Homo sapiens: one gene and its partners. The protein of the gene in region 3 interacts with the protein of the main gene of each other region in a biochemical or structural test. Each region holds a gene or a part of one and is shown on either strand. Other genes may lie near its edges. The genes, in order: NIN, LRP6, GSK3B and SNAI2.

Region 1 (7,337 bases), on a different chromosome or scaffold from region 3:
TACTACTTCATGGTATGGACATAACCCCCACATGTATTCACCTACTCTCCTACACATCAGCATCTATGTTGTTTCCACCATTTTGCAATTAGAAACAGTGCTGCAGTGAGTAACCCTCTGCATATGAGTTTTCATATTGTTGCGGTGGTATCTTTAGGGTAGATTCCTAGAAGTGAGATTTCCAGGGCAAAAGCTAGGTACATATGTAATTTTGTTAGGTATTGTCAAATTCACCTACAAAAAGGCGGTACCAGTTTGTATTCTCCCAGCAAAGCATGAAAGAGTCTGTTTCCCCACAGCCTTGCCAACAGAGTATGCTGTCATATTTTAAAATTGATGCCAGTCTTATAGGTGAGAAATTATACAAGTGTTGTTTTAATTTGCGTTTCTCTAATTTTGAGTGATTCTGAACATTTTTCCATAGATTTGAGGGCCATTTTAATAATTTTATTTTATTATTTAGAGATAGGGTCTCACCCAGGCTAGAGTGTAGTGGTACAGCCTCAAGGGATCCTCCTGCCTCAGCTTCCTGAGTAGCTAGGACCACAGGTGTGTGCCACTACACCCAGCCAATTTTTAAACTTTTTGTAGAGATGGAGTCTTGTTATGTTGTCCAGGCTGGTCTTGAACTCCTAGGCTCAAGCTATTCTCCTGCCTCGGCCTCCCAAAGTGCTGGGATTACAGGTGTGAGACACCACGCCTGGCCCATTTTTATCTTTTGTATATGATTTATTTGTTCGTATGCTTCTCCCATTTTGCTATCAAATTTTTGGTCCCATGTCCCTCCATTTTTAAGAGTTCTTTACTAGCAGGGATATTAGGCCTTCTCACTGTGGTATATGTTGTGAATATTTTCTCCTAGTTTGTCAGCTGTCTTCTAACTTTGTTTATGGTATCTTTTTGCCAAGTAAACTTTTTTTAACATATAATCAGTGTTTTCTTTTATTGCCTCCGGTTTTTGAGTTACAGTTAAATAGCCTTTCTTTACACCAGGGTTAAAGACAAATTCACCCGTATTTTCTTCAAATATTTGTATAGTTTTTTTTTTTTATATTTAGTCTCCTAATCCAATTAAGTTTATCCTTGTGCATGGAATGAAACATAGGTCTAATTTTATCTATTTCCGAATGTCTACTCAGTTGTTCAGGCACCATTAATTTAAAAGTCCATCTTTACCCCAGTGGTTTGAGAAGTGGCCCTGGTTATACACTACGTTTCCATTTGTATTTGGGTCTAATTCTAGACTTTCTATTCCACTTACCTACTTATCTATTCATGTGCCAGGACCATACTGTTTTAATTACTAAGGCTTTATGTTTAAGGAAGTTTAATACAAACATTTCTTCTATTTCTTGGGATTTCCTCAAAAAAAGCTGTCAGGTGGCTACAGGCCATACCTGCACTTTACAACGTTCCAGTTCTTCTTTCAGATTAAACTTCTCTTGTTCCCGTTCCTCCAATGCACTGTTTCCTGGCTCTTTTTCCTTCTGGCATAGCATTTCTGTTAGACGTTGATTAAGTTCTTGCAGTTTTTCCTGGTTTTGAGAGTTCTTTTGGCTAAGTTCTGTATTTTCCAAATCCAATTGTTGGTTTTTGATTTTTAATTCTGAAATCTAATTAAAATTAAAATAAGTTTTTCAAACTTGTTACCCTACTTGTGCTAAAAAAAAAAAAAAACAGATTTAGAGACATAATTGTCTTTTCCCTCTTTATATAAAGTTTAAAATATATATATATTTCAAAACAGAAATAATACACACTCATTATTACAAATTCATTCCATTCACAAGTGTATGAAGAAGTGAGACACTCAGTCTGACCCCACTCTACAGGGGAGCCCATTGTCCACAGCTGGATATGTGTCCCTCCAGATCATTTTCTACGCATATACAGAACCCATACACACATACAGATTCTTTTCTTCTCTTTAGCAAAATTTGGAAATTTTATGTTTGGACAGCTTGCTTTTTCTACTTACTTACTTAAAGACTCTTTCCAGGTGGGCACGGTGGCTCACGCCTGTAATCCCAGCACTTTGGGACGCCGAGACAGGCGGATCACCTGAGGTCAGGAGTTCGAGACCAGCCTGAACAATATGATGAAACCCCATCTCTACTAAAAATACAAAAATTAGCCGGGTGTGGTGGCATGTGCCTGTAATCCCAGCTATTTGGGAGGCTGAGACAGGAGAATCGCTTGAACCCAGGGGGCAGAAGTTGCAGTGAGCTGAGATTGCGCCATTGCACTCCAGCCTGGGCAACAAGAGCGAAACTCCGTCTCAAAAGGAAAAAAGACTCTTTCCAAGTCAGTGTGTTCAGCAACCACCACATACTACTTTTTACTGGCTATAGGATATTCCATGTAGTAAGATATTCCATAATGCATTTATCTGTTCCCACGTTGATAGACATAAAGTTTTTAAAATCATTATTTCTTTTAAATGGATCTTTTAGAAAATCCATTTATACATGGTAGTATTTTGTATTTAGAATTATTTTTTAGAAGTAGGATTGCTGGGTTAGAAGATCTGTATATAGATATATATTCATTATTGTTTCAACAGATATCTCTAATATGTCTTCCTCACAGTGCTACCACCTTATAATCCTAACAACAATGCATGGGCACAGTCATTTCCTCACATCCTTTTAAATACTAGATATCAATCTTTACTTCTTGCTAATTCAATAGGTTAAAAAAAAGACGCTTATTGAATTTGCACTTCTCTAATCACTAATAAGGCTAACCATCTTTTGTATTCTTTTTTTTTTCTGTGACTTGACCATTCATATAGATTGCCTATATTTCAACTGGATTTTCCCATTTATTTGTAAGAGTCCAAAATACATTTTGGATGTTAACACCTTGTCTATTTCAAGTGCTGAAAATACTCTTTCCCAATATGTCCTTGTCTTTTGACTGCTTCAGACAGATTCTTAAATGGCCTTCCCTTTTTATAACTGCATGTTGTAAGATTATACAAATTGAGCACTGAATGGCACCAGCTATCTGAATAAAATGTAATTCTGTGAAATGATATGCTGATTAGCTGGCATTCTGTATATGTGAAATTCTGCCCTTAACTTTCTGCTTTCAATCATGGTGAGGAAAAAGGAAGGGCTAACATTAACTGAAACTGCACAAGGGCTACAGCTAATATTTCGTAGGTATGGTTTTAGAGGTATCACCTCCTCAATTCTGCTGATGATAAAGCTTTATCAAGCACTTAGGGCCTAGAATAATATATACATTATTTAACATAAAACAGGAAGCTAGTTTAGAGTCAGTATGAGGTAAGTTTCCATTTTCAAATTCAGAATTTACAACCTTACCATCATTAGCTATATGCTATTCATTACCGTGTGCTGTAAATTTATAAATTTCAAAAAATGGGAAAATTTTGGAATCAAAAAACATTGAGAAATATTAAGTATTTCCTTACCTGTTTCTTTAAATTTTCAACCATCTTCTGAACTGCAGCATTTTCTTGTTTTACAGTTTCCGTTTTTTGCCTAAAAGGAATGATGAAAATAAAATTTAATGGTTAGGCTTTAAAAGCTGAAGTAAAAGAATTTTAGTCTTTGCAAAAATGTCTTAGGAAAATGTAAGTATACGTCTTACCACATTTCTTCCTGAGATCCATTTAATGTCCCTAATTTCAGGTTAGAAATGCTATCTTCTTCATTTAAAGTAGTAATTTCATTTCTCAAAATAGAATTTTCCTGTTGAAGCTTTTCAGATTCATATCTGAAGCACAGAGATTGAAAAAAATTGTTACAAGGCAGTCATCTGGCATCTTTGGAAAATATTTTCTAGTAACTTCCAAAAGGATGAGTATTCAATGCCAGTTAAAAAGAAAAGTCTAAATTAGTAGTCTCTTAGTATTTGGAAATCGAGTTATGACATATTGACACATTTCTTTTGGGAAGTAAGAATTTCACTAAAAGATGTTAGAGAAGTGTAGCTAAAAAACCCTTAAGCCTGGAGAAATGAATCAAGACTCAATGCTCATTCTGGTTGTTGATTTTTCTCAATGGCAAGCATACTGCTTTGAGCAAATGTCTTCATTTATCTCAGTCTCAAGTCCTACCTGTTCTGAATACACATAAGCCATGTTACAAAGCTATATTAGCTTAGTTTTAGGCCCCTGGGTACCTAGGGAAAGAAAATTCTCTATTGAAATCAAAGGGCCACAATGAAATATGTACACTGTTTACTTTGTGATTTTATTCATCTCATTATATTCTGATTTTTAGGACTAAAAATGGTCTGAAGAAGAGGAAAAACTACATTCAGAATTAAATTATTTCAGAGACATTTCAGACGTCCTGTAATAGTTTACAAGTTTTTTTTTTTTTTGAAAAACCAAATTTGCTAGAAGACTATGCAATTATATTTTACAATGTCAAGTGGGCAGTGGTTCAAATTAATTCTACTTGTATCTCTGCTTTTCAAGCATATTTATTAGAATCTGGAGGCTCCTCAAATTATATGTTCTAAGATAAATTTCCACTGTTTGTTTTGTCTCTTTTTTTTTTTTTTTTTTTTTTTTTTTTTTAAAAGAGACAGGGTCTCACTCTGTCACCCAGTCTGGAGTACAATGGCATGATCATGGCTCACTGCAGCTTTGACCTCTCAAGCTCAAGCAACCCTCCCACCTCGGCCTCCCAAGTAGCTGGGACCACAGGTGTGCACCACCACGCCCAGCAAACATTTTTTTATTTTTCTGTAGAGGCAGTCTTGCTATGTTCCCTAGGCTTGCCTGGAAACTCCTGGCCTCAAGAAATCCTCTTGCCTTGGCCTCCCAAACAGTTGAGATTGCAGGCATTTAAGCCATGGTGCCTGACCATTTGCACTGTTTATGGGTTATCAGCATGTGCTTCAAGTGATATGAGTACAAAACTATAAAGACAGAACATTTTTTCTATATTAGCATAAGAAGTGAGTTCTTATCTACTAAGTTAATAATACACAAAAAATCATTCATTTGTATATAACATGTTTCCTCAAAATGAGGAAAGTAACACTTAGCAAAATAAAAAAAAAAAATCCCCTATCCATCTAAATGAAATAAGTGCTAGAAAAAAGTTAAAGAGGTACATTGAGGATGCACATGGTTAAACAGCAAACACTCGCCATTGTGAACTTTCACACCCCATATGAACACTTGTTTGCTACAGCGGAAGGGAATGCCTCCTAAACAAGGTTATTTTATTTGTTAATACGGCACAGAAGCAGAAGGAAGTCTAGAGAGTACTGCTCTCTTCGTGAAGACTACTAGGTTAGTTTCTCTAGGCACGGCAAGCAGTGGAAGTTAGATCTGGTGAGGTGCTCTGTGGGATTCGTGACGTCTAGAAGGTACATACATTACCTCAGAAGTTCAACTTTTTGCTGCATCTCACTGCACGTGATCTGCAAGTCATGCATCATTGCCTTCAGCTCTTCCTCCTTTTCTCCGTGAGAAAGTACATCTTTTTGCTTAACTAAAATAGTGACTCTCTCCTTCAACTTCCTAGTCAGCTCCTGTAACTTTGTTTTCTCCAGTTCTAACTCTGCTATGGTGGCCTGATGCTGAAAATGTTTGTCTTGAAAGCCTAGGAGAGTAGTGTTTTCCTCCAGTATAACTTGATTCTGTACTCTTGGCCTTTCTTGATGTGTCTGAATTGTTCCATGTAACCAGGCAATTTCATGTGCTTTTACTTTTTCCAAGAGCTGTGTGTTCCCCTCAAGGTACTGGTTTTCTTGCTTACATTCCTCTATGACATGATGTACACTCCTAACCCTGGGCACACACTCTTCCAGTGTCTGATTGAGCTGGAGTATATTTCCATCAGGTTCGATTTCCAGGTTCTCTAAACTGGCTTCCCATAAGCAGCAGTCACACCGCTGGACCACGCTTTCCTGAAGCTTCTCAATCTTGCCTTGAAGTCTCAAAACCAGAACATTCAGCCCCTCATTTTCTATTTTGACCTCATCGTAACTCTTTTCCAGGCTGAGGAATGTTTCAGTGACTTCCTCCATTTTCTTCAGCTCATCCTGCAACCTGAAAACCTCTGCAGTGAGTTCTTTGTTATTTTCTAGTGCCTCATCGTAGCGTGTCTCCATCATTCTCAGCTCTTCCTGAAGGCAGTCATTTTCTCGGCTCACATCTTCATACAACAGCTTATATTTGGGAGAAGCCTCAGGGATTCTCTCAAGCATCTTCAGTTTCTTTTTTAGCACAGAAACATCAAAAAGTAGGTCCTGTTTCTTTTCAGAAGCTCGATCACAGTCCGCACATAACATCATTAGCTGTTCCTGAAGCTGACTAATCTGATTCTTCAGCTCCCAGGATTCAGTCCTGGTCTCTTCACTGTTTTCAAGCTCAGAAAAACCCTCTACTGAAGCTTCAGACTCCTCTATTTTGACTTCCTGTCTCTGAACAGAGCTCGTCCCTGTACTTCCCAGGTCCCGGACCTCATCATCTTCCAGGTCACTTAGGACATGCCGCCTGGTCACACCTTCTACTTGCTTCGTTCGGTTTTGCTGTAAAAACTGCTCTGTTTGTTCCGCAGTATTTCCAAAAAACTCAGTAGCTGGCTCATCCAAACAAGAAGACATTACTAACCCTGGCTCTAACTTTTGTAGCCTCTGTTGCAATCTAGAAATTTCAGTAGCCATTTTCACATTTTCCTTCACTGCCTGTTCATGAGCTCTCTGCAGGCTTAAGAGGACGTCCCCATTTTCTTCCAACAGCTGCTCCCCTTGCTGAAGCAGGGACAGGGCTCCATCTCCTTCCACCTCCTCCTCTCCTATCACCTGGCAACCACTCTGAAGCATTGAGAGAGGAGATGTTGCCTGCTGCATTTCCTTTATTTTACTCTGAAGTCTGGAGATTTCTGTGCTCATCTCGGCTCTTTCTCGATCTGCTGTCTCACAGGTCGCTTTGTGAATGTTCTCCATGGCTAGAAGCTTGGACATCATTTCCTGCCTTTCCTGGTCATGTTCCATTTCTAGTCTTTCCAGCCGCTGGCTGGCCAGCTGCTCCGAAGCCCCTGCCTGGCACAGGACCTCCTCACGCTCCCTCAGTTCCCTTTTGTGACTGCTCTTCAGCTCAAGTATCTGGTCAGACAGCAGGCTTTGCTGGGTTTCAGATACATTTCTTAGGTCTTCCAGGTCTTGGAGTAGCTGCTGTCTCTCGACGACCATGCTGTTCAAATGTTCTTTGTATGTTTTCTCCAGCATCTCTCTCTCCTGGGTCAGGACCAGAGAAGTTGTTTTCTCTCTCTTAAGAGTCTCTTTCAGCAGCTCCTGGGCTTCCGCACACTCCTGGGTGAGCTCGTCCTTCTCAAATTCCC
Region 2 (7,337 bases), on a different chromosome or scaffold from region 3:
GACAACTGTTAAGAAAAAAGAATATCTGTACTCAAATCATTATACTGTCGACTCAAAACCCATTATAAAAGTGGCTTGAAAATGAAAAAGCAAAAAACAAACCTCAATCTTGTCTGTTTTGGCATCTCCCCAGTATATTTTGCCTTCATCATAATCCAAGGCTAAACCATTTGGCCAACCAAGAGAAGTGTTAACCAATACTACACGGTCAGAACCATCCAGAGCTGCTCGCTCAATTTTCGGAATTTCTCCCCAGTCAGTCCAATACATGTACCTAGAGAAGTATACAAAAAATGAGCTAAAAATAGATAATAAAATGTAACTTTCAGATATTCTAAAGGTGAGATCCATCCCTCCTATTACACTGGTATCATCAGTTAATGCCAAGGAAGGGGAAAAAAAAAAAAACATATGAAGAGGTGTTTAAGACATTTATCCCAGCAATATATAAGATTGTGGGAAATTTTCAGATCAGTGTGTTCTAGAGCCAATCCTGAAAATGCCTCCCAATAATGAGATTACAGTTTTACTTCTTTTTTTTTTTTTTTTTTTTAAATATTTTGTGTGCCCTTTTCCATGAACTTTCTCTCTCTTTTCCTTGATGGCTTGTCATCTCTCTGACACAAAAGGCTTATCCCAGCAGTATTAGTCAGATGGCAAACTGAATTCTCAAAATAACTATTTCTTCCTGCAGTGCTAAGTGATTCTTACGGCTCCTGGATGTTTAGATGGCTCTAAGGCATTGGTATATACTGAGGTGTAATTTGTCACTATGCTTGTCCTCAGAATAAATCTCAAAGTAACAAAATTGTTGAGTATGTAAAAAGTTGTACTTCCCTGGACTATGATCAGGGTGGCATGGCAAAACAAAACAAACAACAACAACAAACTAGAAGTAAAGCTGCATGGGCTGGCAAAGTTTTGGAAATCAAGTCATTCATGTATTTAGGGAAAAAAAAGTAAGCTATATTCTTACTATAAAGTACTGAAAATGGAATTAAAGCTTCTAGGGGAAGGGAAAGAGTTCTGAAAACAATTTCTTCCCACATTTTTCATGGTAATGATGCAATCCGAGCAAAATCTGCAGACAACACCCAAAGTCAGCAAACATGGACTTAATTTAGAAAGAAAAAATATCTAAGACATCCAAGGCAAAAAACTAGCAATTTTTAAACTTGAGATTGTATTCTAATCACCATATCCTAAAATAGACAGCCATTAAAGAGCTGTTTACTGGAAACCAATATATATGTCATGTTATCTTAGTCAATGTTTTCAGGAACCTGTGAAAAACAGAAACACCACACAGAATTTACTATCAGTAGAGCTTCTTACCCAACCATGGGATCTAACACAATAGCCCGGGGTTCCTCTAAGTCCTCTGAAATCAAGATCTTCCTCATGGTCCCATTGAGCCTTGTCACTTCTATTCGATCAGTGCCAGTGTCTGTCCAATAAAGATTTCGTGCAACCCAGTCCACAGCAATACCATCAGGATGGGCAATTTGAGCAGTGACCACAAACTGACTGCCAGATCCATCTATAAATGAACGGCGTATGGCCCTCACTTCATCATCAGTCCAGTAGATGTAGCCTTCCACAGGATCGTAATCTATGGCAATGGCATGACGGATGTCTTCTAACTGCAGAACAATGTCTGTAAAATCTGGTGTATCCAAAGAAATGCGTCTCAAGTCTGTCCTTCGAGCTAAAAGCAATAATTCTGTGGCACCTAGAACAACAAAGTGAAATGAAGAATACTTTGAAACCCAGAGGTAAAATTTACCTGCTCTAGATAAAGAATCAAGAACTGAAAAATAAATATAAAATATACATAAATTAACACAAAAGGATGTGCACTCTCTTTAGAGTGGAAATGGAAAGTAATACAGTGAAATAGAAGAGTCTACTCTGAGGTCAAGCTGTTTAATGGCTAACTCTCCAAATTAAGTTGTGATACATTCTATGGTTTCATTGGAATTAATCCAGCTATTTAAAAGTACAATGAATAATGACTATGTAATGACTAAGAAGCTAAGTAGCTCAGTATTAAAGGAGAAGGAAATGTAGGATATAGATCCTTTGTTCAAGAAGCATTTTTTAAAAAAAGATAAAGAAATTTAGGACAAGAATCTTTGTGCTTGATAGGAATGTTCTAAAATTGGATTGTGGTGATAACTGCGTAACTCTGTAAATTTACTAAAAAGTCACCGAATTGTACAATTTAAAAAATGGATGGATTTTATATGCTATGTAAGTTACATCTCAGTAAAACTGTCTTAACAAAGAGAAATACAGGGCAATACCTCACAGAATTGAGGACAAAGCAAGCTATGGAGAAACAAACAGCTGCAATGGAGGGAAGGAACCAGATAAACATAACACAGTGGTTAAGAGTTGTGGATCCAATATAATTTGATTCAAGAAGCTACACAAACTTTGGGAAAATATCTAATCTCGCTAAGCCTAGTTTCCCCATCTATACCTTGTAAGGTTGTTGTAAGGATTAAAGGAGATAAATCTAAAACTCAGGAAAGTACTGAACATTTAAGTACTCAAGAAATATTAACTAATACTTAACAACAGTATTAAAAAATAAAGATTTTCAGATTTTTATTTCACTGAATTTTAAATTAGGTTTATTTATGAACTGTTTAAAGCCCAAGCCCCAAATACTTAACCACATAACCAAGAATGAAGATACTGAGCTCAATCTTTTTTTCATTTTAAATTGTTCAAGTAAACCACCAGCAAAAAATCGTCTAACTATAGGAAGCTAATAAAAGACAGTAAGCAAATTGACAACTGAAAGAATAAGAAAAGATTCCCAGCTAAATAAATGAGTCCAAAACAAAATACTGGCATATAAACTTCAAGAATCAATCTGCAATTACAAGTCAAAAAACTGAGAAGAGGAGTGAAGCCTCTCAATATCAGCCCTTTCACTCTAGAGCTAATTATAAATGAATTCCAACTTGAAGAAAATACAGCCCAAATGCCACTGCAGGAACCAAGTAGGAATAACTTTGTACAATTCACTGCCCCGGCTAACAACCAAAAGGAGCCAGCCTAGAACTTCACAAAGAAGTCATAGAGCTGTTAATTTGAGCAAGGTGATCAAAACAGAACAGTTAACTTAAGGCTACTACATGCCAAATGCACACATGAAATTCAAAACTGGTTAAATATGTACACTTGCACTGCTGTGAGGGAGCAGATAGACCATTATTGCTAAAATAAATCCTCTGTTTTAAAGTCAGGCTACATTTTTAAAGAAAAAAGCAACATTACAAAAACCTTTTGTTTTAAATTGAAACCAAATTGCTGTCTGCCATGGAAACCATTTGACCAAGAGTCAGCCAGCTTCACCTTTTACTATGAGGATAATTTATCAATGCCAAGTCATAACAAACATCCTGTACACAGACTCAATTCCATCTCTCTGACTCCCTGGCCCCCTTGCCAGGGACTCTAACACACTCCAAAACACAGGCTTCTGCTTTTCAGAGTTAGATAAAGAAGCCACAGCTAAATACAACAATTTTCTTACCAGGTCTTGCTGGTTGCTAGAGAACCAGATGGTGATCCATAGGGGTGAGAATGAAGAATAACATTCTCATTAAGAAGAAAAACAGAAGAACTGGTGTTCTTCCAAACTGGAAGTCCCTTAAAATGTCCTAAATCAGTATACTTTCTCCAACGTGCCCTCTCTCTATAGGGAATTAAGAGTAAGGAGAACAGGCAAAGTGTGTTTCTTAAGTATAAAAAGAAGTTGTTTTAAATATGGATTTTTTTTCCCAGCTCTGAAAGCATCTCTCTGTTGTTAAAAAGCAATTTAAAACATCCTTAAATAATTTGTTATAAAATATATCTCATGATATTCTTTGTAGCTAAAAGTTTAATAAACATACTTTCTTTCACAGAGGTTCTTTATTCACAAATGCTACCTGTTAAAAATATATTCCTTATGCGACTACTCATTTCCATAGTTATCAACTGTGATATCAATGACTATGAGATTTGACAGAAAAGATACAACACGTAACTTTTTTCAAAAATATGTTATTTAAAACACTAAAATAATTTATAAAATAGCATTCAAGTGATGCCACAGAACAAAACACTCCTATTCTATAACCATGTGTGAAGACTGTGAAATTAAGTGACTGGTCTCCCAAAGCAGTATAACCTAGAGAGCTGATTATAGAGAAAACAAATCATGAAGAATTCCAATAGTTATAAAATTTTTCATTTTGGATAATATCTTCTTACCATCTTTGCAGGTTTTTCCATTCTCCAGGAGTTTGACCCCAGTGGGGCAAGCACACTGATAAAAAGGCTTGACTGGAGACATCAAACACAAATGGGAACAACCCCCATTGTCAATTCCACATGGATTTGTGGCTGTCAAATATAAATCACATTGATTAATATCAATGATTACTAAGTACACAAAGGTTAACAACCATAACATGAACAACTGTGATAAGCCAAAATTATTACCAAATGTCATGCAGGTGCTTGACTATCAAACCATCTGCAAAGACAGGAATTAATCAGTGTGAATTTACTTAGTATTTTGTAACCAAAGAGGAATACACAAGAAGTAAAGCAGGAGATCCCTGCCCTAAAAGAGGTTACAATTTAGTCAGTTAAACAAAATTAACAAAAAGCAAAACTAAAAACAAACAAACAAACAAACAAAACCAATAAAACTAAGTGCTATTTTGCACATTATAGACAATAAGTACAGAGTCAAATGGGAAAAAAACCGCTGAGGTTTAAAGAATTGAAGAAGAGCTTTGTGGAGTATACAGCACGGGAGCCTTCAAGGATAGGAAGGATAGATAAGAGGACATTTCAAGTATGGTAAAGCTATCTGAATAAAACTTTGGGGGCTATAAACTGGGTAAGATATTAAGGTGAACAGTATAACTGGAGGTTAAGGTTTCTACTGACTAATAGGAACTAAAGCTGAATGAATACAAAGAATGGGAATAGATTAAAGTGAAGGACACTGAAAGCCAAGAAAAGTAATTATGTTGAAAAGTCATGCCTTGGGAAGATTAACATAGAAGGGATAAGCAGAAAAAAGGGGAAAATGAAAATCAGAGAAAACTAATTAGCAAACTTTGGAAATTATGGAAAGGGATATGTCCAAACAATACTCATAGAAAAAAATCAACATAAGATGGAGACCAATGGAACATGAAAGATAAAAGTAACCAACATGAAAGATAACTGCAAATTCTCAAATTAGTAAAACATAAAGGACCAACAATGCCATTTAAAAAGAAAAACAAGAGGCCAGGCACGGTGGCTCGTGACTATAATCCCAGCACTTTGGGAGGCCTAGGTGCGTGGATCACTTGAGCCCAGGAGTTTGAGACCAGCCTGGGTCACCAACATGGTGAGACCCTACCTCTATAAAAAATACTAAAATTAGCCAGGTGTGGTGGCATATGCCTGTAGTCCCAGCTACTAGGGAGGCTGAGGTGGAAAGATCACTTGAGCCTGGAAGTTCGAGGCTGCAGGGAGCCGTGATCACATAAACGCACAACAGAGCAAGACTCTATCTCAAAAAACAAACAAAAAACAGGGAAAATTCTCTTTTGAGGGCTATGAAGAATAAAAAAATTCATACAAGTGACTGAACATTTTCTTTTGTACAGAAGAGTAACACATACACTTAAAAACATTTTTATGGGCTCATGATCATCAGATTCCAACATAACACTTTCAATATTTGATTATCTCCCCCTAAATGGAGAGCTAATATAAAGCAACATATGTTGCAAAATCTCTTCATTTTTGGCTATGTAATAAAATCTGAAATACACTCAGACAGATGCCAGACATTTATTTACACAAAAGTGCCAAACCCTTAACATTCTCGTATTCCTTTTAAACCTAATTCCAGTCCTCTCTTACAAGTTCTCAGCAGTCATAGCCCGAGTCATTGTAAAGGCTGACCAAACACAGAACCAAAACTAAGGAAAACAAGGTGGGAGGGGTACACAGAAAAGTTTAAGTAGGTATTTTATTTAGCAAGCTGAGGTACTTAAATTCAAATATATTCTAGATTAACAGAGTTTTCATTTAAAAAGAAGAGGCGTTTTTGTGTGTGTGTGTGTTTTTTGTTTTTTTTTTTTTTGAGACATAATTTCTTTCTTGTTGCCCAGGCTGAAAGTGCAATGGCGTGATCTTGGCTCACTGCAACCTCTGCCTCCCGGGTTCAAGCGATTCTCCAGCCTCAGCCTCCCAAGTAGCTGGGATTATAAGCACACGCCACCACGCCTGGCTAATATTTTTGTTATTTTAGTAGAGACGGGGTTTCACCATGTTGGCCAGGCTGGTCTCAAACTCCTGACCTCAAGTGATCCACCTGCCTTGGCCTCCCAAAGTGTGGGATTACAGGCATGAGCCACCGCGCCTGGCCCAAGAGTTTGTTTTTTAAACACACTCACATCAACACATTCAACTACATACTGAAAGAAATAATATGAACAAAAAAACTCATTTGTGTATAAGCCTAGCATATAAGCTATCTCAATTTTTAAATTATCTCTCTCTTCTCCACCTCTAAAAGCGCTGACTCAAAAAGGCTGAGGTGGTCTGTAGTGACAGGCTACAAAATGGTCTAGGCTATTGCCTAACCTGAATTATACTTTTACATTTTCCCTTTTTTTTGAGCAAAGTCTCGCTCTGTTGCCCAGGCTGGAGTGCAGTGGCACAATCTCGGCTCACTGCAATCTCCACCTTCCGGGTTCAAGTGACACTCCTGCCTCAGCCTCCCAAGCGGCTGGGACTACAGGTGCACACTACCACACCCCATTAATTTTTGTATTTTTTAGTAGAGACAGGGTTTCACCAGGTTGGCCAGGCTGGTCTCAAACTCCTGACCTCATATGATCTGCCTGCTTCAGTCTCCCAAAGTGCTGGGATTTTAACTTTTTTTTTTTTTTTTTTGAGACACAGTCTTTCTCTGTCTCCCAGGCTGGAGTGCAGTGGCGCAATCTCAGCTCACTGCAACCTCGGCCTCCCGAGTTCAAGTGATTCTCTTGCCTCAGCCTCCCAAGTAGGATTTTAACTCTTTTTTATTCCCGCCAACTATCTTTGGATATGCCCTCCCTCCTCCTGATCCTCACTAAAGCCAGACATTAGAGTGCTACAAAGCTGTTCCAACTTGCAATTTAAAAATCAAGGATCACTTACCATTTGGCTGCCTCTGTTGGCTGAAGGCATGTATATCCATGGGAGAGAAGATGTCAGAATGGATTTCACGCAGACCCTCACCAGTATACTTGTTGCAAGCCAAAATGGAGTGTGTGCTCCAG
Region 3 (7,337 bases):
GGGAACTAGCAGGAGAGATTTCCATTGAGTCTTAAAAGTTAAGTCATAGTTAGATAAGATGGCTTGACAATTTGAGATAACAGTACAATATTCAGATATCAAGATCCAGTGGGCATTTGACAACATGAGACTAGTACTTGGGGGAGAGGTGAGAACTGAAAACAAAAACAACTGAATTTTTAAAAATTCTTTAGAATGTTCCAGATATTTACAGCAGATGGACACTAGAATGTGGTATAACTAGTGTTATACCAGAACAGTGATCACTTCTTCTTGTTATATCCCTTCATGTTTACCATAGATCTTGGTACATTGGAGGCTCCCACTAAAATGTTGCAGAGGTTGGAAGAGTAGTAAAGGGAGCAACGCTGCATAGTGACAGAGGCTTAATTACACCCGGTGTCTTCTGACTCTCTCTGCTATACCACAACATAGAGATGACATCTGAGCTTCCATGCATAGGCTCCCCTAATGAGGTACAGAAAATGAAAATACATGACGAGAACTGAATTTTGGGATTGCTAGTGTCTAAAGGCAGAAGGACAAGAAAAAAAAGGGAAGATAGCAAAAAAAAAAAAAAAAAGTTACGAGAAAAATGGATAGTGTTGTAATATGGTTTGGATGTTTATCCCTTTCCAAACCTCATGTTGAAATGTAATCTCCTTTTTTTTTTTTTTTTTTTTTTTTGAGACAGAGTCTCACTCTGTCCCCCAAGCTGGAGTGCAGTGGCGCGATCTCGGCTCACTACAAGCTCTGCCTCCCGGGTTCACGCCATTCTCCTACTTCAGCCTCCCAAGTAGCTGGGACTACAAGCGCCCGCCACCATACCCGGCTAATTTTTTGTATTTTTAGTAGAGACGGGGTAGAGCCTGGTGGGAGGTATTGGATCAAGGGGGTCAACCACTCATGAATGGGGTTAGCACCATCCCCTTGTTGATGAGTGAGTTCCCACTCAGTTAGTTCACAGGAGATCTGGTTATTTAAGAGAGTCTGGGGACGGGCATGGTGGCTCACGCCTGTAATCCCAGCACTTTGGGAGGCTGAGACAGGCGACTTGCCTGAGCTCAGGAGATTGAGACTAGCTTGGACAACATGGCAAAACCCCGTTTCTACAAAATAGTAATAACAATAATAATAATAATAAAGTCTGGATCTCCCCCTTCATGCTCTCGCTCAGCTCTTGCCATGTGATGCACCTACTCGCCCTTCACCTTCTGCCCATGATTAGAAGTTTCCTGAGACAATTACTAGAAGCAGATGTCTGCACCACACTTCCTGTACAGTTTGCAGAATTGTGAGCCAATTAAACCTCTTTTCTTTATAAATTACTCAATATCAGGTATTCCTTTATAGAGATGCAAAAACAGACTAACACAAGTTGCAACATGGATTAAAAAAATTTTTTGAAAAAAGGAAGCATAGTCAAATACATAAAATGCTTATATGCTACAGGCAGTGTTCCTCTGGTCTACATCAACACAGTACAACGGTGAGGACAGGTCACTTTTTATAGTATAAATTAAGAAATTTTAACTTACCTTTCACAGGATTAAAAAATACATATATTACATATGTCATTTGTAATGACTACAAAAGTAATACTGCAATCTTCAGTGAATGTTATCTCTACAAAATACATGACTAGAAATAAAATCACTACAATGGTTGAGCTGAACAAAAATGCGCACAATAGAAGAAATTTGAAGCAAAAAGAAGCAACTAAAAAAATAATCATTTATGGTATATGTATTACGACAGCAACAAAATATATGAAATACTGGACATTTTACCTTAAATCTCTTGTCCTGCAATACTTTCTTGATGGCGACCAGTTCTCCTGAATCACAAAGTTTGGCTTGATATACCACACCAAATGATCCATTTCCAATCACTTTAGTGTCTGTATAGCTGACTTCTTGTGGCCTGTCTGGACCCTGCCCAGGAGTTGCCACCACTGTTGTCACCTTGCTGCCGTCCTTGTCTCCTAAAGGAAGAAAGGAAATTTTTTTTTCACGAGAACTGTAAGGAATTAAATAGAGAAAACTGCCAAAATATACAAGGTAAACTATATTCTTTATTTTTTATTTTATTTTTTTTTTTGAGATGGAGTCTCACTCTTGTCACCCAGGCTGTTGTGCAGTCACACAATCTCGGCTCACTGCAACCTCCGTCTGCCGGGTTCAATCAATTCTCCTGCCTCAGCCTCCCGAGTAGCTAGGATTACAGGCACCTGCCACCACGTCTGGCTAATTTTTGTATTTCTAGCAGAGACGCGGTTTCACCATGTTGGCCAGGCTGGTCTTGAACTCCTGACCTCAGGTGATCCGCCCTCCTTGGCCTCCAAAGTGCTGGGATTACAGGCATCAGCCACCACGCCTGGTCAAAGTAAACTATATTCTTTACTACAAATTATTTTTAGTTTATTACATGTAATTACTTCAATTACTTGTTTCAATTATAAGTCATTTTTTAAACTCCCATGTATTCAGTCATTCTATAGACCAGACACAATGCTTAGTTTCAACCCCATGAGGTAGACAGTACTGTTCCCATATTATAGGTAATAGGAAGAATGTTAAATTTGCCCATGGTCAAATAGCAAAAGGTGAACCCATAAGAGTCTGACCTTATCCATCCAATTCTAAAAGGCCTTAGGGCTTTCTTCAAGACCTTATTTTACTTGAAAATAAAATATGTGCAAATAAAAATGTTTAAAACTTCTCTCTTCAGATCCTTCTGCATTTAGGAAAGTAAGGCTTTGAGTGTTTGCTTCCCTGAATCTTCTTTTTAGCAAAGTAGAAGACCTCTCAGAGAAAGCTCAGGTGGAGAAAAGAATGTTAATTTGGGGTTAACAGATATAAAAATTTAAATAATCCAACCCATTCTGAACTGAGGCCCAATTATATAAGCATATCACTGGCTCCAGGGTCTCTATTCACTCACAGACCTCTTCTTTCCTTTTTTGCCTTCTCTCACCCCAGTAGCAATCCAACGGCTCTCTTCAATTCAGGCACAAGAGCCACCTCCTACTTCACTAGGGATAGTCCACAGTCACCATCTTGTTTTCTGAATTCTTAATCGATTCTGTGTATTATGCTACCTAGTATCTGATCTAAAAGAGCTTTACATTGTTCTTTTAGTGACTTCAACGTACACAAAAATGTCTACTGTTTCTTCTCTCTTCCCTGACAAATCTAAAACCAATTCTCAGTACAATATAAGTCCTTAGGCTCACTTATTGGACTTTTATTTTTTCCTGTTATTCTTCCATTACAATTTCCTTTCTAAAATACTAACTGAATTCCAATTAACCTAATAAAAGAAAAGTAATATAATATTTATGAGTATTTTTCTCTGTGAAATATAAATTGCTAGATAAATGAATATCCAAATGCACTAGTGGAATATTATAACCAATATTTATATCCATTTAAATTCACAGAAGTATTAATATACACAAAAGCCAGTGAATGTCTGTGACCAATTAACACTTTCATTTGTAAGATGGCATTCATGGTCGCTTCCAAGATGGCTGAATAGGAACAGTTCTGGTCTACAACTCCCAGGAAGATCTTTGCAGAACACAGGTGATTTCTGCATTTCCAACTTAGGTACCTGGTTCATCTCACTGGGACTGGTTGGACAGCAGGTGCAGCCCATGGAGGGCGAGCCGAAGCAGGGTGGGGCATTGCCTCACCTGGGAAGTGCAAAGGGTTGGGGGATTTCCCTTTCCTACCCAAGGGAAGGCATGAGTGGCTGTACCTGGAGGAGCGATACACTCCTGCCCAAATACTGCACTTTCCCAATGCTCTTCGCAACAGGCAGACCAGAAGATCCCCTCCCATGCCTGACTCGGCGGGTCCCACGCCCACACAGCCTTGTTCGCTGCCAGCACAGCAGTCTGAGATCAACCTAAGATGTGGGAGCTTGGTGGGGGGAGGGGCGTTTGCCATTGCTGAGGCTTGAGTAGGCAGTTCTATGCTCACAGTGTAAACAAAGCAGCAGGGAAGCTCAAACTCGGCAGAGACCACCACAGCTGAGCAAGGCCTACTGCCTCTCTAGATTCCACCTCTGGGGGCAGGGCATATCTGAACAAAAGGCAGCAGACAGCTTCTGCAGACTTAAACGTCCCTGCCTGACAGCTCTGAAGACAGCAATGGTTCTCCCAGCATGGCGTTTCAGCTCCCGATAAGGGACAGACTGTTATCCAAGTGGTTCCCTGACCCCTGTGTAGCCTGACTGGGAGATATCTCCCAGTAATGGCCAACAGACACCTCATACAGGTGGGTGCCCCTCTGGGACGAAGCATCCAGAGGAAGGATCAGGCAGCAATATCTGCTGTTCTGCAGCCTCCTCTGGTGATACCCAGGCAAACAGGGTCTGGAGTGGACCTCTAGCAAACTCCAATAGACCTGCAGCTAAGGTACCTGACTGTTAGAAGGAAAACTAACAAACAGAAAGGAACAGCATCAACATCAACACAAAGGACATCCACACCAAAACCCCATACGTAGGCCACCAACATCAAAGACCAAAGATAGATAAAACCACAAAGATGGGGAGAAACCACAGCAGAAAGGTTGAAAATTCCAAAAACCATAACGCCTCTTCTCCTCCAAAGAAACACAACTACTCGCCAGCAAGGGAACAAAACTGGATGCAGAATGAGTTTGACAAGATGACAGAAGTAGGCTTCAGAAGGTCAGTAATAACAAACTTCTCCAAGTTAAAGAAGTATGTTCTAACCCATTGCAAGGAAGCTAAAAACCTTGACAAAAGGTTAGACGAATGGCTAACTAGAATAAACAGTGTAGAGAAGAGCTTAAATGACCTGATGAAGCTGAAAACCAGAGTATGAGAACATGGTGAAGCATACACAAGCTTCAGTAGCTGATTCAATCAAGCAGAAGAAAGGATATCAGTGACTGAAGATCAAATTAATGAAATAAAGCGAGAAGACAAGATTAGAAAAAAAAGAGTGAAAAGAAATGAACAAAGCCTTCAAGAAATACGGCATTATGTGAAAAGACCAAATCTACGTTTGAATGGTGTACCTGAAAGTGATGGGGAGAATGGAATCAAGTTAGAAACCACTCTTAAGGATATTCACCAGGAGAACTTCCCCAACATAGCAAGGCAGGCCAACATTCAAATTCAGGAAATACAGAGACCACCACAAAGATACTCCTCAAGAAGAGCAACCCCAAGACACATAATTGTCAGATTCACCAAGGTTTAAATGAAGGAAAAAATGTTAAGGGCAGCCAGAGAAAGGTTGGGTTACCCACAAAGGGAAGGCCATCAGACTAACAGCAGATCTCTCGGCAGAAACTCTACAAGCCAGAAGAGAGTAGGGGGAAAATATTCAACATTCTTAAAGAAAAGAATTTTCAACCCAGAATTTCATATCCCGCCAAACTAAGCTTCATAAGTGAAGGAGAAATAAAATCCTTTACGGACAAGCAAATGCTGAGAGATTTTGTCACCACCAGGCCTGCCTTACAAGAGCTCCTGAAGGAAGCACTAAACATGGATAGCAACAACCGGTAGCAGCCATTGCAAAAACATGCCAAATTATAAAGACCATCGATGCTAAGAAGAAATTGCATCAATTAATGGGCAAAATAACCAGCTAGCATCATAATGACAGGATCAAATTCACATATAACAATATTAACCTTAAATGTAAATGGGCTAAATTCCCCAATTAAAAGACACAGGCTGGCAAACTGGATAAAGACTCAAGACCCATCAATGTGCTGTATTCAGGAGACCCATCTCACGTGCAAAGACACACATAGGCTCAAAATAAAGGGATGGAGAAAGATCTACCAAGCAAATGGAAAGCAAAAAAAAATCCTGGTCTCTGATAAAATAGACTTTAAACCAACGAAGATCAAAAGAGACAAAGAGGGCCATTACATAATGGTAAAGTGATCAATTCAACAAGAAGAGCTAACTATCCTAAAATATATGCACCCAATACAAGAGCACCCAGATTCATAAAGCAAGTCCTTGGAGACCTACAAAGAGACTGAGACTCCCACACAATAATAATGGGAGACTTTAACACCCCACTGTCAATATTAGACAGATCAAGGAGACAGAAAATTAACAAGGATACTCAGGACTTGAACTCAGCTTTGGACCAAGCGGACCTAATAGACACCTACAGAACTCTGCACCCCAAATAAACAGAATATACATTCTTCTCAGCACCACATCCCACTTATTCTAAAATTGACCACATAATTGGAAGTAAAGCACTCCTCAGCAAATGTAAAAGAACAGAAATCACAACAAACTGTCTCTCAGACCACAGTGCAATCAAATTAGAACTCAGCATTAAGAATCTCATTCAAAACCACACAACTGCATGGAAACTGAACAACCTGCTCCTGAATGACTACTTGGTAAATAACGAAATTAAGACAGAAAGAAATAAGTTATTTGAAACTAATGAGAACAAAGACACAACATACCAGAATCTCTGGAACACATTTAAAGCAGTGTTTAGAGGGAAACTTAGAGCACTAAATGCCCACAAGAGAAAGCAGGAGAGATCTAAATCAACATCCTAACATCACAATTAAAAGAACTAGACAAGCAAGAGCAAACAAATTCAAAACCTCGCAGAAGACAAGAAATAACTAAGATCAGAGCAGAAGTGAAAGAGATAGAGACAGAAAAAAAACCTTCAAAAAAAAAAATAAATGAATCCAGGAGCTGATTTTTTGAAAGATCAACAAAATAGACCATTAGCAACACTAATAAAGAAGAAACGAGAGAAGAATCAAATAGATGCAATAAAAAATGATAAAGGGGATCACCACTGATCCCACAGAAATACAAACTACTATCAGAGAATACTATAAACACCTCTACGCAAATAAACTAGAAAATCTACAAGAAATGGATAAATTCCTGGACACATACACCCTCCCAAGACTAAACCAGGAAGTCGAATCTCTGAATAGATCAATAACAGGTTCTGAAATTTAGGCAATAATTAATAGCCTACCAACCAAAAAAAGTCCAGGACCAGACAAATTCACAGCCGAATTCTACCAGAGGTACAAAGAGGAGCTGGTATCATTCCTTCTGAAACTGTTCCAATCAATAGAAAAAAGGGGAATCCTCCCTAACTCATTTTATGAGGCTAGCATCATCCTGATACCAAATGATATCTGGCAGAGACACAACAACAAAAAAAAAGAAATTTAGACCAATATCCCTGATGAACACTGATGCGAAAATCCTCAATGAAATACTGGCAAATCGAAACCAGCAGCACATCAAAAAGCTTATCCACCACGATCAAGTCGGCTTCATCCCTG
Region 4 (7,825 bases), on a different chromosome or scaffold from region 3:
AGTAAACTTGGAATACTTTTTAAGGCACCTGAGTTCGCGTCTGGCAGATCTCTTCCTATGGGAAATCCTATTACAGACTCTATTACAAAGCAATACTGTTCTTTTCAGTTGAAATGATTTGGCAGCAATGTAAATCTTTGCATTTTTTTAGGAAGAAAAGATGCAATGTGCTTTTCATTTTATCTTTGAAGAGAAAGGTTACTGTCTTTTATTCTCTCAATCTAGCCATCAGCAAATATATAGTAATTTTAAACTTCACATGGAAAGGATTATCTTTAAACACATGAATTCCATGCTCTTGCAGCTCTCTCTCTGTGGGTGTGTGTGTGTGTGTGTGCATATGTGTGTGTGTCTATACATATTATTTGGTTGGTCAGCACAGGAGAAAATGCCTTTGGACTTTATTTGTCATTTGGCTTCGGAGTGAAGAAATGCATTCTGTTCGAGTAAACATTGATTGCGTCACTCAGTGTGCTACACAGCAGCCAGATTCCTCATGTTTGTGCAGGAGAGACATTCTGGAGAAGGTTTTGGAGCAGTTTTTGCACTGGTATTTCTTTACATCAGAATGGGTCTGCAGATGAGCCCTCAGATTTGACCTGTCTGCAAATGCTCTGTTGCAGTGAGGGCAAGAAAAAGGCTTCTCCCCTGGGGGTGGAGTGGGAGAAAAAAAGAAAGACAGTCAGTGTTTTTAGAGGAAACATAAAGTAAAATCATGTTAACAAAAGTCAATCACATTTTGCTTAAATAATGAGAAGCAGCAAAACCTGATTAAAATCCCTCATAATAGACACTTTTAAAAATACCTGAATTTTTAAGATAAACTTGAATATTGCATTTAAAAATCATACACGAATATTATTACTGCTGCCAATCATACAGAAATAATTTACGTAGTTCTTGGACTTTCACTTCTTAAAGCTTTCTGCTTTAGCAGATGCAGCTAATGTTGAGCACCTCCCAACATTTCCCAATATTTCCCCTTTTCCCTCTTTCTGTACTATGATTAAGGTGGTCTAAGTGCCATGATACCCTGCAGAATAATTCTGTGATACGAATAAGAAATTAAGGAGCAAAAAATCCCCAAACAAAGCAAGAGAGGCAAAGTAAATTTAGTTTCAACTATCCAAGTCACCCACGGGTGACAAATATCAGAGCAAGAATGTAACTAACAGAAAACTGTAGGAAAAGCCTTCATCTATTAACCAAATCAATTGATTAAGATAGCAACATTTGTATTTGCTGATTACTGGGGGCAGTTTCACAGAACACACATTCAAGCACATCTTTCCTGATTTTCTAACTGATCTTTGAGACCAAACCTTCTGAATCTACTTTCCAAAGTCTACATGCTGTTTGCAGTCCCTGGAGCAGAGGTTGTTAGCAAGAAATGGAGCACTTTGTGCCCTAACAACTTTTTGAGTAGTCAGGAAGTAGCTATCAATGACTGTCCATCATTAAAAGCACTATGTCACAACTTCATGCAAATCCAACAGCCAGCCCAGGGCTTCATTGTATCTCAGAGTAACATTCCTGCCTATGGTTTTTCTCTTACCCGTGTGAGTTCTAATGTGTCCTTGAAGCAACCAGGGTCTGGAAAACGCCTTGCCGCAGATCTTGCAAACACAAGGTAATGTGTGGGTCCGAATATGCATCTTCAGGGCGCCCAGGCTCACATATTCCTTGTCACAGTATTTACAGCTGAAAGATTTTCTAGACTGGGCATCGCAGTGCAGCTGCTTATGTTTGGCCAGCCCAGAAAAAGTTGAATAGGTCTTATTGCATAAATTGCACTGAAACTTTTCAGCTTCAATGGCATGGGGGTCTGAAAGCTTGGACTGTAGTCTTTCCTCTTCATCACTAATGGGGCTTTCTGAGCCACTGTGGTCCTTGGAGGAGGTGTCAGATGGAGGAGGGGGACTCACTCGCCCCAAAGATGAGGAGTATCCGGAAAGAGGAGAGAGGCCATTGGGTAGCTGGGCGTGGAATGGAGCAGCGGTAGTCCACACAGTGATGGGGCTGTATGCTCCTGAGCTGAGGATCTCTGGTTGTGGTATGACAGGCATGGAGTAACTCTCATAGAGATACGGGGAAATAATCACTGGGAAAGAAAAGGGAGGGAGAGAAGATTAAGGCAAAAATAATTAAAAATAAATCCACACGCAAGTATACACACACTGGAAAGATATTTAGCAACACACACGTGATTTTCTTAGGAAGAAGATAGACCCATTTAGGAGGGCATACACACTGGTAAAATGTTTCATTTCCACCCTGGCACCTACGGAGTTACTGTACTTAATGCACACATAGGCTGACAGCTGCACGGAGCTATAGGTGCTCTGAAGTCAGACAGTGCAGCCAAGCCAGTGCCTTCGCCGTCCCCATTGAGGAAGGAGAGCCTCAACATTATTTTTAAACATACAGAAAAGTTGTTTTCCATGTTACGTATGGGCTATTTAGGTGTATTACGACCGTGAGTACAAAGATATGCCTGCATCAAGCCGCCTTCTAAAGGAAAGGAGACTTAGTGCATGAAAAACGCAGTAATTCAATCCTTATGTTGCTCATCTTTCACATACTCATTATGCATGTATACACAGGCTTTAGCAAACGAAGCTGCGAGATTTGAATGAAATGTTCCTTGTTAGTCAAGAATTTTAAAAGTTTTGAATTAAAACGAACCCTAAATGATCAAAAGAATGTAAGCTCCCTTTCAGGACACTGTTAAAAAGGAAAACAGTTGAATCTTTGGCTCTTTTGTAATGGTATTTGAAGGGTAATACGTAGATTCATATTTGCAAAGCTCTAGATACGTAGTTCTAGATATATTTTTCTCTTTTTACCTGTATGTGTGTCCAGTTCGCTGTAGTTTGGCTTTTTGGAGGCGTTGAAATGCTTCTTGACCAGGAAGGAGCGCGGCATCTTGCCAGCGGGTCTGGCGGGCGCCCGGCGCGGATAACGGTCCGGCGGGAGGACACGGCGGTCCCTACAGCATCGCGGCGGGCCAGGCTCGGGCAGGGGCCGTGCTCAGGTGCGGCAGACGGACGGGCCGGCGCCTCTGAAGTCACCCGGCTCCTTTACGAACTGAGCCCGTTTTGGCTGGGAGGGTTTTTTTTTCCTCTCTTTTGCAAGAAAGATCCAATCACAGCTGAGAGGTTCAGATTTCAGCTCCTCCCTCTGGGACAGCTGTGAACAGAGGAAGAATCTGTTGTCAGACTAAATTATTCTGGTTCAAAATGGGCTGTTTTTTGAGATTTCAGTGGAGAGGAAAAAAAGTGTTTAAGTATTTTCAAGAGAGGTAACCTCGCTCGGTGAGCCCCGCCCGCGATCCACGCTCTCTGGGAGCTAGGAGGGGCGCAGGAGCCGGGGTCTCTGCCCTGCCCGCCTGGCTTCCAGATGTGGTGCAGCGCCAGCGCGCGGGGACACAGTGTCCGCCAGGAGAAGGAAGGGCCGCCCTGCACCACACCAGGCCAGCCTCTGGTGTTAATGAGAGCCTATATTTGGAAGTGGCATCTGGAGAGGTTTGCCTTGCACAAAGACCAAATAATTACCTCTTGGCTTTTGAAAAAGGAAGGGGGAAGCGGGAAGACAAAGGCGCCTGTGAGCGCGGAGGACGCTCTCCTGGGACTCTGGCCTGGAGCGGGACTGCAGCCTTGCGTGCGGCGAGGGCGCTGCGCTACTCAGGGCTTCCGCGAAGCCAGGGGCAGCGCGGCCGCGTGCAAATTAAGTACTCATGTCACCGTGTTAGCTATGGTGGCTTGAAAGAAATGCTTTGTAGCCCTCTAAAGGCAGGCTGATCGGAAGAACTGGAAGATTGCAAAGATAAAAAGGAACTCTGGCAGAGAAGGGGGGCAAGAGGTAACTGTCATTTGGAACCACCGGACATTCTCTCACACTTTTGACAAGAGATCTTATCTTTTCATGTATTACAGTGCATCTTTTTTTTTATGGGAAAAAGGGTTGTATGGGTCTTTAGAGACAATTATTTTTATTTCTAATATTCCCCTGCTTTTATGTGGTGCTATTTTCATCAGTATAAAGCCATTAAAATCCATCTCAGTATCTACCAGTTTCCTGTATAATGCTAAAAAAGAAATTGAAGGATATTATTATGAATATAGATTGATTAAAGTTTTAAGAACCCAGTCTAGTAACTGCAAAAACACCTTTATTTTGTGTATGGTCTTCAATCTAAAAATACTTTCAGGTGGTTTATTTTAAATATAAAATTTCAAGCATATTTTAAAGCATCTCTGTCCATTGCAGACTTTTATCCCTATCTTTTGCTAAAAGAATAAGGAAAGAACAAATTCACATGAAGATCACCCTACTCTTGTTTCTAACAGGTGCTGGAGGAAAAAAGTGAAAAAGAAAATAACAGTGGTGATGTCAAGACTTGTCAGAGAAAAGTGCATTGTCAGGTTGCATAACTTCTTAATCTTGGAATGAGAAAACAAGAGTGTATGTGTGTTTGGAGGGTGAGGTGGGGCACTCACAGATTTCCTAAGCTAATTTCAATGATTATTCTTATTTCTTCCAACAGTCACTAATTTAAATGTCAAACAGAGAAAATAATTCAAAGGAATCCTTATGCTAATGGAACTGTACTTGCAGGAGAGAGGAAAATATGAATACATATTCGATTTCTCCACACACAAACTGGAACCTGGAGTAAAAGCCAGAGGCAGTTTTCTAAGCTTGCTACTCTATGTGAGGGTTTGTTCGGATGTAGGCACCTGGGTTTATGAGAGCAGGAGTCCTCCTTGCTTTTCACTCCATTTCCCACAAAACACACATTTTTGTTACAGATATAGCACAGTTGAGAAAACACATATCGCCATGGCTATTATTTCCTTGTTTCACTCTACACAGTCTATTCACAACAAAGAAGAGTGTTAGACAATGTTTTGGTATTTATTTGCTGGTAGTTATAACACAAGATCATCTACTAAAATGTGTATTCAAAAATCCATTTACAACGTTTAATAATAATTCACTATGCATGAAAAAAGCTTACATTTGGATCACAGAGGCATAATCCAGCCCAGCCCCATCAGCAGGTATCCGAGGGTGCACTGCACAGATCGGCGTCAGGACGTGCGGCCACACCTACTGTGAGGAGAGGATGGGGCTCGGGTCTGTGCATGGGGCATGTCATTACACAGATCCGCGTGCTAGCGAGTAACACGTATGCCCGTGTGAGGTCTGGGCCGCTGTCAGAGCAGGGCGAGTCTGCGCGCTGATGGCGTGAGTCAGACGAAACAGGTGCTCTGCTCAGACACAGCGGAGGGCATGTGGCGCCAGCACCATGTGGTAAAAACGCAAGCCGGGAAGTCAAGGCCACACCCAAAGGCCAGCTGCTGGGACTCTGCTAAGACAAGACAGAGGTTTCCTTTCCTTCTGCCAGCCAGAGGGCTCATCTGGAGGGGTTGGCTTTGGTCGTTGACAAAAAGACTTTCTCTTGCCCAGGGACAGAAATCTTTGTGGAGGCAACTGCACCAGATTTTAAAGCTTTCATTCTGGAATCCAATAGAAGTCAAATCAATGACTGAGGGGGAAAAATGGAACAAGCAAACCCAAGTGGGTTTGCTAATCCAAGGATTCAGTCCTAGGTTGGTGAGAAATTGGTGCTCCATAATTAGGCTGATTGGGTTTATCAGCCTAATTTATTTCATAACAATTAAATAAATGGTGCTTGTTCTTAGAGCCACGTGGACACAGCCCAGCCAGGGTGAAGCCAGTGGGCACGGGTAAGACAAAAGGAAGGCACAAGCTCTGCTCTTAGGCTCTTGAGAGTTTAATGTAGTGTAGGGAGAAAAAAGGAACTCTGGAGGCCATAGTGAGGCTTAAAAAATAATCCTTCCTAGGCTTGAGCCACACTGGCGAGACTCCATGGCATGGGTTGTGCGGGTTGCCTGGCACCCCAGACACCCGTATAATCTAATTCCTTAATTGCCATGATGTGATTTGATGTGACGTACCTGACAGGCTCTCATTTTCTCTGTTTTCTGAAGAAGCTGACCAAGATAACTTGTGGAAAACTTTGTAAGTTAAAGATCTGGGCCAGCCTTCCCCACAGGCTCCCTGGATGGGTGGGGTTTCTCCCGGAGCCAGTTTTCTTCATGAAAGACACATTCTTGCCCTGCCAAGTAGGGGAATAAATTAGATCCGTGAGGTTTGGGAACGCACCTTGGGTTTCTTTACTTTGCGTGGAGATTTGTACACATTTAGGTATTTAGGTGTGTAAAAAGCAGTGCAAGTATTGACTACCATGTTTAGGAAATGGAGTAGTAAATCTAGCACCAGAAGAAACCAGAGTGTGGCATAGGCTGAAAAATCCCATTTTATGCTGTGTCCTATCTCCTAAAATGAAAGGCATCTCTTTCTAAGTTTGGTGTGTGGTATGATCACTCTGGAGGGGGTTCATATCTCCTCAATTCATATGCATATTCATATCCCTTGAAAAATATGAAGTGATGAAATATCATGAGTTTGGCTGTGCTATCTGGAGAATATTATAATACATTAGTAATTTTAAAAATCTATTTACATAGAAACAAAGCATTTATTAAATATAACTTTGAAGTTTGAATGACAAGGGTGTGATGCCATTTTGTGGGTTTTTAACATACACATATCTGTATGTAAAAGGATTTAGGAAGAAATATTCCTAAATTTCCTTTTGGAAAATTGTCAGAGCGGGCATGGGATTCTGCTTATATATTCTGAGCTCCACAATAAGGAGAACCTCTTTTCTCAAAGGGAATGGATGGCACTCGCCTATGCACTCCACATATGTAAGTATATGTGCTTGGTGATGTCAACAGGGCCAAATATGAGCATGAACACACCTTTGTGTGAGCACTCACATGTCTGAATGTTGGGAAAATAATAGCCAAAAATGGTGTCAGGATGTCCCTCTGCTGTTTAGGAGTTTCCATTATTTCCTGCGTGTTCCCAGTGTCATGTTCAGCAGGCCAATAGCCACTAGGCATCTGCGTCTGTCTGGAGTTAGTGCTAATGCCAATAGCTCAATAAGTACCATCACATATGATCAGTAAATATTTAAGATCACTCCAAACAGAAAACCCTTAACTTGGGAACAGCATTTTAATGAAATCTGCTTTCTGCCAAGTCACTTGTGTTCAGAATCTTATTCCTAGTTATGTTTGTATGATCTCATTTCCCTTTGGGTGGATAGAATATGGTTAAGTGCATCATGAAAAGTAAGAGATATTCATCTCTTCAGTGTTCTGTGTGTACCTTGTGGAAAGTGTTGATGATATTATCTGTAAAATGAAAAAGAAAGACTAGGGAGTGTTGAATTTGTGTGTATTTTAAGCGACAGCTCAGGGATATGTGGTTGCAAAGAGACATCTATTGGTCAGCTTCAGAAGACTCATTATTTTCTTTGTCTTTCTTTCCTTTTCCGTAACTTTTTAACAAGGTCTGCCACCTAGTGGAAAATGGGTGGATTTGACTCAACCCTGAGAACATCAACCTGACCTTGTTTTGCAATTGCCACAATTTCAGATGGACATTATATAAATTTGTTGAACTTATTAATGTACTCATAATTCAAAGTGACACATTTGTATTTGTAGAAATATGCACAACATTTACACAACAAATTATGATGATTTTATAAGATAGGCGAGAAAGGGAATGTTATGACGTCATCAGTCTGTGCAGTCAAGAAGGAAGTAGGCAGAAACAGCTAGCATTACACTGGAGGCAAGTGAGCAACCTTCTGGACTCTTTGTTATGTTTGCATGATAACCTCCAAGGTAGAGGAATTTTAAAAATGGGAAACCAAGCCTGA

The links.
Region 1: of the proteins of GSK3B (region 3) and NIN, one has a biochemical effect on the other in vitro, tested with the Homo sapiens proteins (2 studies listed by BioGRID and IntAct).
Region 2: of the proteins of GSK3B (region 3) and LRP6, one has a biochemical effect on the other in vitro, tested with the Homo sapiens proteins (2 studies listed by BioGRID, with this or other methods).
Region 4: of the proteins of GSK3B (region 3) and SNAI2, one has a biochemical effect on the other in vitro, tested with the Homo sapiens proteins (2 studies listed by BioGRID).

What each region holds. Positions count from the first base shown.
Region 1 is NC_000014.9:50,751,121-50,758,457, forward strand, and holds part of NIN (ninein), read right to left. Parts: coding exon 5,372-7,337; intron 3,748-5,371; coding exon 3,622-3,747; intron 3,513-3,621; coding exon 3,443-3,512; intron 1,614-3,442; coding exon 1,398-1,613; intron 1-1,397. UniProt on the Homo sapiens protein: Centrosomal protein required in the positioning and anchorage of the microtubule minus-end in epithelial cells. May also act as a centrosome maturation factor.
Region 2 is NC_000012.12:12,179,708-12,187,044, forward strand, and holds part of LRP6 (low-density lipoprotein receptor-related protein 6 isoform b precursor), read right to left. Parts: coding exon 7,216-7,337; intron 4,405-7,215; coding exon 4,273-4,404; intron 1,733-4,272; coding exon 1,336-1,732; intron 275-1,335; coding exon 103-274; intron 1-102. UniProt on the Homo sapiens protein: Component of the Wnt-Fzd-LRP5-LRP6 complex that triggers beta-catenin signaling through inducing aggregation of receptor-ligand complexes into ribosome-sized signalosomes.
Region 3 is NC_000003.12:120,000,256-120,007,592, forward strand, and holds part of GSK3B (glycogen synthase kinase-3 beta), read right to left. Parts: intron 1,985-7,337; coding exon 1,791-1,984; intron 1-1,790. UniProt on the Homo sapiens protein: Constitutively active protein kinase that acts as a negative regulator in the hormonal control of glucose homeostasis, Wnt signaling and regulation of transcription factors and microtubules, by phosphorylating and inactivating glycogen synthase (GYS1 or GYS2), EIF2B, CTNNB1/beta-catenin, APC, AXIN1, DPYSL2/CRMP2, JUN, NFATC1/NFATC, MAPT/TAU and MACF1.
Region 4 is NC_000008.11:48,918,341-48,926,165, forward strand, and holds the start of SNAI2 (zinc finger protein SNAI2), read right to left. Parts: upstream 3,090-7,825; 5' UTR 2,926-3,089; coding exon 2,847-2,925; intron 2,102-2,846; coding exon 1,556-2,101; intron 649-1,555; coding exon 467-648; 3' UTR 1-466. UniProt on the Homo sapiens protein: Transcriptional repressor that modulates both activator-dependent and basal transcription. Involved in the generation and migration of neural crest cells.